Linked DNA regions of Homo sapiens. The protein of the gene in region 1 interacts with the protein of each later gene in a pairwise test. Each region holds a gene or a part of one and is shown in the gene's direction. Other genes may lie near its edges. The genes, in order: NBR1, ATXN1L and METAP1.

The links.
Region 2: the proteins of NBR1 (region 1) and ATXN1L interact in a two-hybrid assay, tested with the Homo sapiens proteins (one large-scale study listed by BioGRID).
Region 3: the proteins of NBR1 (region 1) and METAP1 interact in binary tests that used the Homo sapiens proteins (3 or more experiments, as listed by UniProt).

Annotation. Positions count from the first base shown.
Region 1 is NC_000017.11:43,188,099-43,191,748, forward strand, and holds part of NBR1 (next to BRCA1 gene 1 protein), read left to right. Parts: intron 1-943; coding exon 944-1,021; intron 1,022-1,489; coding exon 1,490-1,704; intron 1,705-2,510; coding exon 2,511-2,678; intron 2,679-3,273; coding exon 3,274-3,483; intron 3,484-3,650. UniProt on the Homo sapiens protein: Ubiquitin-binding autophagy adapter that participates in different processes including host defense or intracellular homeostasis.
Region 2 is NC_000016.10:71,848,826-71,852,475, forward strand, and holds part of ATXN1L (ataxin-1-like), read left to right. Parts: intron 1-798; 5' UTR 799-915; coding exon 916-2,985; 3' UTR 2,986-3,650. UniProt on the Homo sapiens protein: Chromatin-binding factor that repress Notch signaling in the absence of Notch intracellular domain by acting as a CBF1 corepressor. Binds to the HEY promoter and might assist, along with NCOR2, RBPJ-mediated repression.
Region 3 is NC_000004.12:98,998,699-99,002,348, forward strand, and holds part of METAP1 (methionine aminopeptidase 1), read left to right. Parts: intron 1-3,650. UniProt on the Homo sapiens protein: Cotranslationally removes the N-terminal methionine from nascent proteins. The N-terminal methionine is often cleaved when the second residue in the primary sequence is small and uncharged (Met-Ala-, Cys, Gly, Pro, Ser, Thr, or Val).

The DNA of each region.
Region 1 (3,650 bases):
CCAGAATGGTCTTGATCTCCTGACCTCGTGGTCCACCCGCCTCAGCCTCCCAAAGTGCTGGGATTACAGGCGTGAGCCACTGCGCCCGGCCTGATTTGCATTTCTCTAATGACCAGTGATGATGAGCTTTTTTTCATAGGTTTGTTGGCCGAATAAATGTCTTCTTTTGAGAATTGTCTGTTCATATCCTTTACCCACTTTTTGATGGGGTTGTTTTTTTCTTGTAAATTTGTTTAAGTTCCTTATAGATTCTGGATATTAGCCCTTTGTCAGATGGATGGATTGCAAAAGTTTTCTCTCATTGTGTAGGTTGCCCGTTCACTCTGATGATAGTTTCTTTTGCTGTGCAGAAGCTCTTTAGTTTAATTAGATCCCATTGTCAATTTTGGCTTTTGTTGCCACTGCTTTTGGTGTTTTAGTCATGAAGTCTTTGCCCCTGCCTATGTCCTAAATGGTATTGCCTAGGTTTTCTTCTAGGGTTTTTATGGTTTTAGATCTTATGTTTAAGTCTTTAATCCACCTTGAGTTAATTTTTGTATAAGGTGTAAGGAAGGGGTCCAGTTTCAGTTTTCTACATATGGCTAGCCAGTTTTCCCAGCACCGTTTATTAAATAGGGAATCCTTTCCCCATTGCCTGTTTCAGTCTATCCAATTTCTAGATTTATTTCTCATTGTCTTTGTTGTAAGATTTGCACATTTATCAGAGATTTGGGAATTAGTGTGCTCCTCTCTCTGACTTTTGAAACTGGTAATAGTTTACTTCTGTAGAAGGGGAGCAGGCTAGAGACTTTGTTTTCCTTTAGTACGCCTTCATACTGTGACTTTTTAAAAAATTATATACTTGTATGATTTCACAAAAGAAACCTCAAAATAATACACTCCAGGAAAAGTATTTTAAATAGAAAAAGTAACCTCTAACATCTCGGCTTGTGTTTTCTCCCAGTCGTTTCCACTTGTTCCATGTGACACAGACCAGCCTCAAGACAAGCCCCCAGACTGGTTCACAAGCTACCTGGAGACGGTGAGTGTTCTGTCTCGCTTGGGTTTTAACTGCGGTGTTGGCACAGGTGGAATGTGGAAGAAATAGAAAACTGAACCCAGGTGGCTGCTGCCTCTAGTACCGGTGAAGAGTGGTAGCTTATAATTTCCAAACTTAGAACAGTTCCAGTCGAGAAAGCTCTAACCTTTGCAGTGAAGTGTCAGAAAAAGAGGGAGTCTAATTCTAAGCATGTAAGGGAGAGGGACAACTCTCTGCTTGAGAAAAAGTTAGAAATTTACTTATCAAAAGGATGTTTTGATATTTTCTTCGAACCAGTTTAGCTGTGGAAGGAATAGACCTTTTGCTATGTTTCTGTCTATTCAGTAGCAGTTGTTTATTGTGTTTTTGTATTATACCAGAGACAGTTAGGTTTCAGATCTATTGATATCTTCACATTTTTTTCTGATATTGGAACTGAGTTTTTTCCCTACCTTCTGCTCCATATTCTAGTTCAGAGAACAAGTGGTTAACGAAACGGTTGAGAAGCTTGAACAGAAATTACATGAAAAGCTTGTCCTCCAGAACCCATCCTTGGGTTCTTGTCCCTCAGAAGTCTCAATGCCTACTTCAGAAGAAACATTGTTTTTGCCAGAAAACCAGTTCAGCTGGCATATTGCTTGCAACAACTGCCAAAGAAGGATTGTTGGTGTCCGCTACCAGTGTAGGTAAGCAGTTGCTTGGGAGTAGCTAGCTAGTGATAGACCTTACAGCTTTTACCTCCCTGGCTTTCTGTGTAGGTAAAGGGAAATTAATTGTACCCTGTTTCTGAGCATTAGATGTTGTAGCTGTGAGTTGGAAGCACAAGCTACTCTTCACCCACATGCTTTGTATGTTGTAACTATTCAGATTGTTGTGTTCAAATGTGCATTTGGATTAGCAAAGCCAGGCAAAATTATGTTCCCCTGAACGGACAAAATTAGATCACTAAGGGTAGTTCCTCGGTTGTTCCAAATGCCTTTTTTTTTTTTTTTTTGGTGACAGGGTCTCTGTCACCCAGGCTGGAGTGCAGGGTGCAATCATGGTTCACTGCAGCCTCACCCTCCCAGGCTCAGACAATCCTCCCACTTCAGCCTGCCAAGTAGCTGGGATCACAGACTGCCTTTTAATTATTTTTTTGGAGATGGGGTCTCCCTATATTGCCCAGGCTAGTCTCAAACTACTGGACTCAAATGATCCTCTTCTCCATGGCCTCCCAAAGTGCTGGGATTACAGACATGAGCCACTGTGCCTGGCCCCATGTACTTTCACATCTTACCTTCCTCCCATAGATTTTCATTTAAAATGGATATGGGTTAAGTGTTATTATCCTCATTTTATTAATGAGGAAAATTGAGGCATGGCATAGTCAGATGGCATGCTCAGGTTACCTGCTAGTTGGTACTGGAGCAAACATAGAAGTATGGTCTTATATCTCCCTACCCCAGGTACTTCCTATTCTGCCATTGTGTATTGTGCCATTCTTTCCCCACAGCCTATGCCCATCCTACAATATCTGTGAAGATTGTGAAGCAGGGCCATATGGCCATGACACTAACCACGTCCTGCTGAAGTTGCGGAGACCTGTTGTGGGCTCCTCTGAACCGTTCTGTCACTCAAAGTACTCTACTCCTCGTCTTCCTGCTGCTCTGGAACAAGTCAGGTAAAACCCTCTACATGGAGATGCTTATTCTCTGATTGACTTCTTGGTTCTGGTGACAGGGTATGAATCACAAAACTACAGATAGTCTCCTTAGTTCTGCTCATTTTCAATTGATGTGCAATAATGAAGACAGTTATCCAAAGTTAGTGAAATAGAAATAATAGCTATAAAAAGAAATTAAGAAACTAAAGTAGGCTGGGCACAATGGCCCATAACTGTTATCTCAGCAACTTGAGGGGCTAAGGTGGGAGGAGTGCTTGAAGCCAAATATTTGAGACCAGCCTGGGCAACATAGCAAGATCCCGCCTCTACAAAAAAAATTTAAAAATTAGCCAGGCGTGGTGGTGCGTACCTATAGTTTCAGCTACTTGGGAGTCTGAGGTGAGCAGATTGCTTGAGCCCAGGAATATGAGGTGGAAGGGAGCCATGATTAGACCACTGTACTCCAGCCTACATGACAGAGTGAGACCCTAATTCTAAAACAAAAAAAGAAATTAAACTGGAAGCTGACACTGATGGAAATTGCAATTGGCTCCACATAGCTTCAGAATTTATTTGTGACTTTCTTTTAAGACTTGCTTTTATTATCTCACAGGCTCCAGAAACAGGTTGATAAGAACTTTCTTAAAGCAGAAAAGCAAAGGTTGCGAGCTGAGAAGAAACAACGTAAAGCAGAGGTCAAGGAACTTAAAAAGCAGCTTAAACTCCATAGGAAAATTCACCTGTGGAATTCAATCCATGGACTCCAGAGCCCCAAGTCTCCTTTAGGCCGACCTGAGAGCTTGCTCCAGTCTAATACCCTGATGTAAGCCCAGGACTGGGGTGGGAGCCAAAACTTTAGGCCCAGCTCTCTGAAACTGGAACTTCAACCAATTTCCGTCTTATTTATTGGTAGCCCTTAACACCTAAATCTTTAAAACTTTCCATTATCTGGTCTTAGTATTTTTTGTTTGTTTGTTTTTTGAGACAGAG
Region 2 (3,650 bases), on another chromosome or scaffold:
TTAGGCTACAGAAAGGAAGCAAGGATGAGGTCATATGTTCAGGAAAGAAGGTGGCACATTCATGTTTGGTAGCAAAAGGAGAAACTTAAGAAAAAGAGCCAGCAGGAGGCTGGGCGCTGTGGCTCACACCCGTAATCCCAGCACTTTGGGAGGCTGAGGTGGGCGGATCACCCAAGGGCAGGCGTTCGAGACTAGCCTGGCCAACATGGTGAAACCCCATCTCTACTAAAAATACAAAGTTAGCCAGGCGTGGTGGTGCATGCCTGTAGTCCCAGCTGCTTGGGAGGCTGAGGCAGGAGAATTGCTTGAACCCGGGAGGCGAGGTTGCGGTGAGCTGAGATTGCACCATGTACTGTGGCCAGGGCAACAAGAGCAAAACTCCATGTGTTTTAAAAAAAAAAAAAAAAAAAAAAAAAAGCAAAAGAGCCAGCAGGAAAGACCATGTGTTCAAAGCCCCCTTTGGGAAGAAGGCAGAAAAGAGACAAGGTGCTTATGAGACACATGACTAACCGTGAAGCTGTTGGTCTCCCTGGGCTTGTGGAGCCCACAGGTTATTTGTGCATTGGTGAATGCGTGTCCCTGTAGCTCTTTGTGCCTTGTGATTTCCCCGACTGTTTCTCTCATGTCCCAGGCTGGATGAGTTGGGGGTAGCCTCCTTGTCTGCCCCTTTCTCTTTCCTCCTTATTTTCTAACAGTCCCCTTTGTTACATCTTCCTCCATGGCACAGTTCTTTCTATTTCCTTTGTCTTGGCTCATCCCTAGGTTACTTTTCTTTGCCTCTGATTTGTTCCCTAATAGATGTGGGCGCCCCAGCCAGAAGCAGAGAGGGGTACAGGGAAGCTACAGAGAAGCCCCTTCTGATGCCCCAGGGAGCAAGTCGACTCCTTCCAGGCTCCAGGAACACCACAAAGCAATATGAAACCTGTTCATGAAAGGAGTCAGGAATGCCTTCCACCAAAGAAACGAGACCTCCCCGTGACCAGCGAGGATATGGGGAGAACTACCAGCTGCTCCACTAACCACACACCCTCCAGTGATGCTTCTGAATGGTCCCGAGGGGTTGTGGTGGCTGGGCAGAGCCAGGCAGGAGCCAGAGTCAGCCTGGGGGGTGATGGAGCTGAGGCCATCACCGGTCTGACAGTGGACCAGTATGGCATGCTGTATAAGGTGGCTGTGCCGCCTGCCACCTTTTCACCAACTGGACTCCCATCTGTGGTGAATATGAGTCCCTTGCCCCCAACGTTTAATGTAGCGTCTTCACTAATTCAACATCCAGGCATCCACTATCCTCCACTCCACTATGCTCAGCTCCCATCCACCTCGCTGCAGTTCATTGGGTCTCCTTATAGCCTTCCCTATGCTGTGCCACCTAATTTCCTACCGAGTCCCCTCCTATCTCCTTCTGCCAACCTTGCCACCTCTCACCTTCCACACTTTGTGCCATATGCCTCACTTCTGGCTGAAGGAGCCACTCCTCCCCCACAGGCTCCCTCCCCGGCCCACTCATTTAACAAAGCTCCCTCTGCCACCTCCCCATCTGGGCAATTGCCACATCATTCAAGTACTCAGCCGCTGGACCTTGCTCCAGGTCGGATGCCCATTTATTATCAGATGTCCAGGCTACCTGCTGGGTATACTTTGCATGAAACCCCTCCAGCAGGTGCCAGCCCAGTTCTTACCCCTCAGGAGAGCCAGTCTGCTCTGGAAGCAGCTGCTGCAAATGGAGGACAGAGACCACGAGAGCGAAATTTAGTAAGACGGGAAAGTGAAGCCCTTGACTCCCCCAACAGCAAGGGTGAAGGCCAGGGACTGGTGCCAGTGGTAGAATGTGTGGTGGATGGACAGTTGTTTTCAGGTTCTCAGACTCCACGGGTAGAGGTAGCAGCACCAGCACACCGGGGGACCCCGGACACTGACCTTGAGGTCCAGCGGGTGGTTGGCGCTTTAGCTTCTCAGGACTATCGTGTGGTGGCAGCTCAGAGGAAGGAGGAACCCAGCCCCCTCAACCTATCCCATCATACCCCCGACCATCAGGGTGAGGGGCGAGGGTCAGCCAGGAACCCTGCAGAGCTGGCAGAGAAAAGTCAGGCCCGTGGGTTCTACCCTCAGTCCCATCAGGAACCAGTAAAACATAGACCTTTACCCAAAGCAATGGTTGTAGCCAATGGCAACCTGGTGCCCACTGGAACTGACTCAGGCCTGCTGCCTGTGGGCTCGGAGATCCTGGTAGCATCAAGTCTGGACGTGCAGGCCAGAGCCACCTTCCCAGACAAGGAGCCAACGCCGCCCCCCATTACCTCCTCTCACTTGCCTTCCCATTTCATGAAAGGCGCCATCATCCAGCTGGCTACGGGAGAGCTGAAGCGGGTGGAGGACCTCCAGACCCAGGATTTTGTGCGCAGTGCCGAAGTGAGCGGGGGGCTGAAGATTGACTCTAGCACGGTCGTGGACATTCAGGAGAGCCAATGGCCTGGATTTGTCATGCTGCATTTTGTGGTTGGTGAGCAGCAGAGCAAAGTGAGCATCGAAGTGCCCCCCGAGCACCCCTTCTTTGTATATGGCCAGGGTTGGTCCTCTTGCAGCCCTGGGCGGACGACACAACTCTTCTCTCTGCCCTGCCATCGGCTACAGGTGGGAGATGTCTGCATCTCTATCAGTTTACAGAGCTTGAACAGTAACTCAGTTTCTCAGGCCAGCTGTGCTCCCCCAAGCCAGCTGGGTCCCCCCCGAGAAAGGCCTGAGAGGACGGTCTTGGGATCCAGAGAGCTATGTGACAGTGAGGGGAAGAGCCAGCCGGCAGGAGAGGGCTCCCGTGTGGTAGAGCCTTCCCAGCCTGAGTCCGGTGCTCAGGCCTGCTGGCCAGCCCCGAGCTTCCAAAGATACAGCATGCAAGGGGAGGAGGCACGGGCTGCGCTGCTCCGTCCCTCTTTCATTCCACAGGAGGTAAAGCTGTCCATTGAAGGGCGTTCCAATGCGGGAAAATGAACCTCTTCCCCAGACCAGGACTGGGGCTTTACCCCAGAGCCTCGCCTCGCCGCCGTGAGCAGGCAGAGGATTTGCACACGCCGAGCAGGGAATGGCTTTCTTGGCAGTGAGATTTGGGGGAAAGGGGAGGCATGAAGTCAGCCTCCCAAGGCAGGATCTGTTGTTCATTACCCCATGGCATCCTTTCAGGACAACCCCAGAGGGTGTTGTGATGGGGAGCAGCAGGCCTGGGGCAAGGAAGGAAGGGGGTGCACACAGGAGAAGAAACATTCCAAAATCAGGGCCTCCCTGTTCTTTCCTCCCCATCCCTAGCTCCTGCAAGAGAAAGTCCAGGCTTTGGGAGCAGATGGCAGAGGGAGGGAGTAAAGAAAGAGCCAAAAATGATGATCCACAGCTTATAGTAGCAGTTAAACTGTCAGAAGTTTTTTTTCTTTTTTGTGGTAGAAGGGCAGGAGGCCCCAAGGTTGGAAATAAGAGGGTTCCCACCCAGAACCCTTCTTGTGAGAGATGCGCACTTTAAAGGGTGATTTTGTTCCAGATGTCTATGGCTGGGTGTGTGGGGGAGGAGCACTCTCATCTGCAGGACTCTGCTTGATCCTCTGCTTCATAGCCCTTCCCCATCTCTCCTCACCATTCTGCCTACAAGGCTTCTAGCAGCACGGGGG
Region 3 (3,650 bases), on another chromosome or scaffold:
ATCACACCATTAACAGAAGTAAGGCATTCCCAGTTACTCTGTCACACCACCTTGTTTATTCCTTTATGACCTTTTGTGCAATCTATGATTACCTCACCTGTTAGAAAAATGAGGATTTTTTTTTTTTTTGAGACGGAGTTTCGCTTTTGTTGCCCAGGCTGGAGTGCAATGGTGCGATCTCGACTCACCGCAACCTCCGCCTCCCAGGTTCAAGCAGTTCTCCTGCCTCAGCCTCGCAAGTAGATGGAATTACAGGCATGCACCACCACGCTCAGCTAATTTTGTATTTTTAGCAGAGATGGGGTTTCTCCATGTTGAGGCTGGTCTCGAACTGCTGACCTCAGGTGATCCACCCTCCTTGGCCTCCCAAAGTGCTGGGATTACAGGCGTGAGCCACCATGCCCGGCCGAGAATGTCTGTTTTTTAGTCGGAAGGTGAACTTCATGAATGATCCTATCTTGTTCACTGCCCTGTTCTCATTTCCCAGTATGATGCTCTGTATGCAGTAGGTGGCCATTAAATGTTTGAATTAATGGATAAATGCATCAAAATAGAGAGGTATACTGCTGTGTTTGAATCACAGCTCCATCATTTACTAGTTATGTGACTTGGGCAAATAACCTCTCTTTTTCAGCTGTATCTTTTTAAAATGGGGCTATTAATAATACCTATCTCAGGGTTTTGATGAAGACTAAATCCAAAGTATGTAAAGCTCTTAGCATATTAGTAAACTTAATGAATGTTAGCTCTTTTTATTGTTATACTGTTTTATGTTTAGGAAAGTAGAAATATTTTATCTAGGATGCTTAATTTTTTTTTTTTTTTTTTTTGAGACCGAGTCTTGCTCTGTCACCCAGGCTGGAGTGCAGTGGTGTGATCTCGGCTCACTGCAACCTCTGCCTCCCGGGTTCAAGCGATTCTGCTGCTTCAGCCTCCCCAGTAGCTGAGATTACAGGTGCGCACCACCACGCCTGGCTAATTTTTTTGTATTTTTAGTAGAGACGGGCTTTCACCGTGTTAGCTAGGATGGTCTGTAACTCCTGACCTCGTGATCCGCCTACCTCAGCCTCCCAAAGTGCTAGGATTACAGGCATGAGCCACTGTGCCAGCCTAGGATGTTTGATTTTAAGGAAAGCTTTTGTTCTTTAGAGGAGTACAACCAGTTTTACTTGAAAATTGAGTTTTCCAAGAGTTCTTGATGTTCGATTGTGTTTATTAATAGAAGTTTTCCTTCCTATTTAATAGTTTATGTATGTCTTTTTCATTTGTGTGTAAGAATTTTTTGAGGACAGAGGGTGTGTTTTACTCATTTTTGTATTTTCCAAAGTGCCTTGCCCACAGTAGGCCCTCATTTCCTTACATGAAAGAAAAGACATCAGTGGGCTTGCAATGGAAAACAAAGAAATTCTGTATTTACATTATCCTTTGTAAACACTGAATAGTATAGTATATTGTTGATACACTCATTTATTTGCTTATGGTTGAATTTAGTTACTTTTCAGTTTTTTAGCTGATGTTTAACTTTGTGAATAGCATAGGGCAGTTGCTGTCTCCTCTGGTTAGAGGATCAGCTGGGAGGGACCTGAGTGATCTGTAACTATTTATATTTATAAGGCATAAAAGGTAGTAAGCATAGTGTAAGTGGAAGGAGACCTGGATTTTGCTCCCATGACCTTGGGTAAGTCCCCTCCTTTGCTTAATGAAGCATCCTCTTCAATGGAGTTGAGCAGAAGGTGACTAAGAGAGCATCCAGGGTGCCTAGTAGAGCATATAGTAAATTTGGGCCTTATTGTGCATATAACCTCATATGTAATGTTATTAAAATCAGTACCAAGGAAGGCTTAAAAATCTTTGAGGGGAAATGTTACTTGTTTATGAACATTTTTGACAAATCCAATAATAGGTTCTTTAAAAGAAGTGGTAGGTAACATGATTAACTGAATCCAGGAAGAAAGTCTTTTTTTTTTTTTTTTTTAAATAACAAGACAGTTTTTCTTCTCTCTCTCTCTTTTTTTTTTTTTGAGTTGGGATCTTACTCTGTCAACCCAAGGTTGAAGTGCAGTGGCGTGATCTTGGTTCACTGCAACCTTCACCTCCCAGGCTCAAGTGATCCTCCTACCTCAGCCTCCCAGGTAGCTGGGAACACCAGTTTGAGCCACCACACCTGGCTAATTTTTTGTGTTTTTGGTAGAGACGGGGTTTCACCGTGTTGCCCAGGCTGGTCTTGAATTTCTGAGTTCCACTTTGCCTCAGCCTCCCAAAGTGTTGTCTATACAGGTGTGAGCCACTGCACCTGGCTGGAAGAAAGTCTTGTTGAGCATCTTGTAGGTTGGAGTTAGAAGGTAGAGAAGGAATTGCCGTTATAACATGCAGTATCTTTGAAATGCAACCCTGCCCTCTGAAACTTTCTCTGTCAGTAACAACATTCCTGCCAGTGCAGGGTGTTTCTGGAATTCATCTTCATTAAAGGAGATATTATCATGTTGTGCGTTTTTATTTATAGGGATTTTCTTTAAATTCCTCATGTCACTTCAGACCACCCTTAAACACTCCTGTAAGTTAGCTGAGTTTAGGTACAAATGCCATAGCTTCTTATAAGCAAAAAGATAGGATGAGGTAAAGAGAAATTATGAGTCTTTTTAAAACAAAACAAAAATAATTTCATAAATTGTTTATTGTAGAAAAATAGAAAATATGTGTGAAGATAATCAATTACCCAGAGATGATTTCTATGAAATTTTGGTGTGTATTCTTAAGAACATATTTGCGTATTTATTCATGTGCACACAGTTGTGTATGTTTTTACAAAAATGGCAACCATAATACATATAATCTTAGAGAATTTTCTCATCCTTAATGTCTTAACCAGTGTTTTGGTAGTGTCATGTCATGGCTACATTTACATGATCCTTTATAAAGACTGTTATGGGTGTACTGTCATTTGTTTATTCACTTATAGTTGAATTTAATTTCTTTTCAATTTTTTACCTTCTGTTTACTCTTCAATAAATATTCCTCGAAAATTTAAATCATTTTGACTTACTCAGGAACGTATAATAATGGTACAGGATTTGGTACATGAACCCAGAATTGAACTATCCTAAGCTAATTCTATATCCTTTTCCAGAACAGTGGTTCTCACAGTGTAGTTAGTGGATTATTGTTGGTTTGAGGGCCTTCTGGTCATCTATGAAGTTTTGGCATGAAATATACCTACATTACAGTAGAATTTGTAAAACAACAACAACAAAAAAACGAGCATCATTTGGTTGGTAGGCAATCAAAAGTTATACCAGTCTTTGAGTTACCTTTTTGGAAATTGAAGTGCTATAGGAAATGTGATCTTATACTGTTCACTTAGTTTGTGGATTGAAATCAAGTTTTAGTCATGGTTTTTTAAGGTGAATCTTTTTCATGTTTAGCATATTTGCAAAATTTTAGTTAAGTTTTAGTAAATTTCATAGGAGTGACAGACATAAGTGCATAGCTAAGCTCATTCCAGCTCTAGATATTCGGAAGAAAAGCAGTGGCACGGTAACTCCTTCTGTAATTGTCTTTGGTATTACTGCAATAGCAAACACTTTTAGATAGATATTAAATAGGCAGAAATACTTTATAAAGCAACCGTTGAGCTTCATTCTGTATCAAAT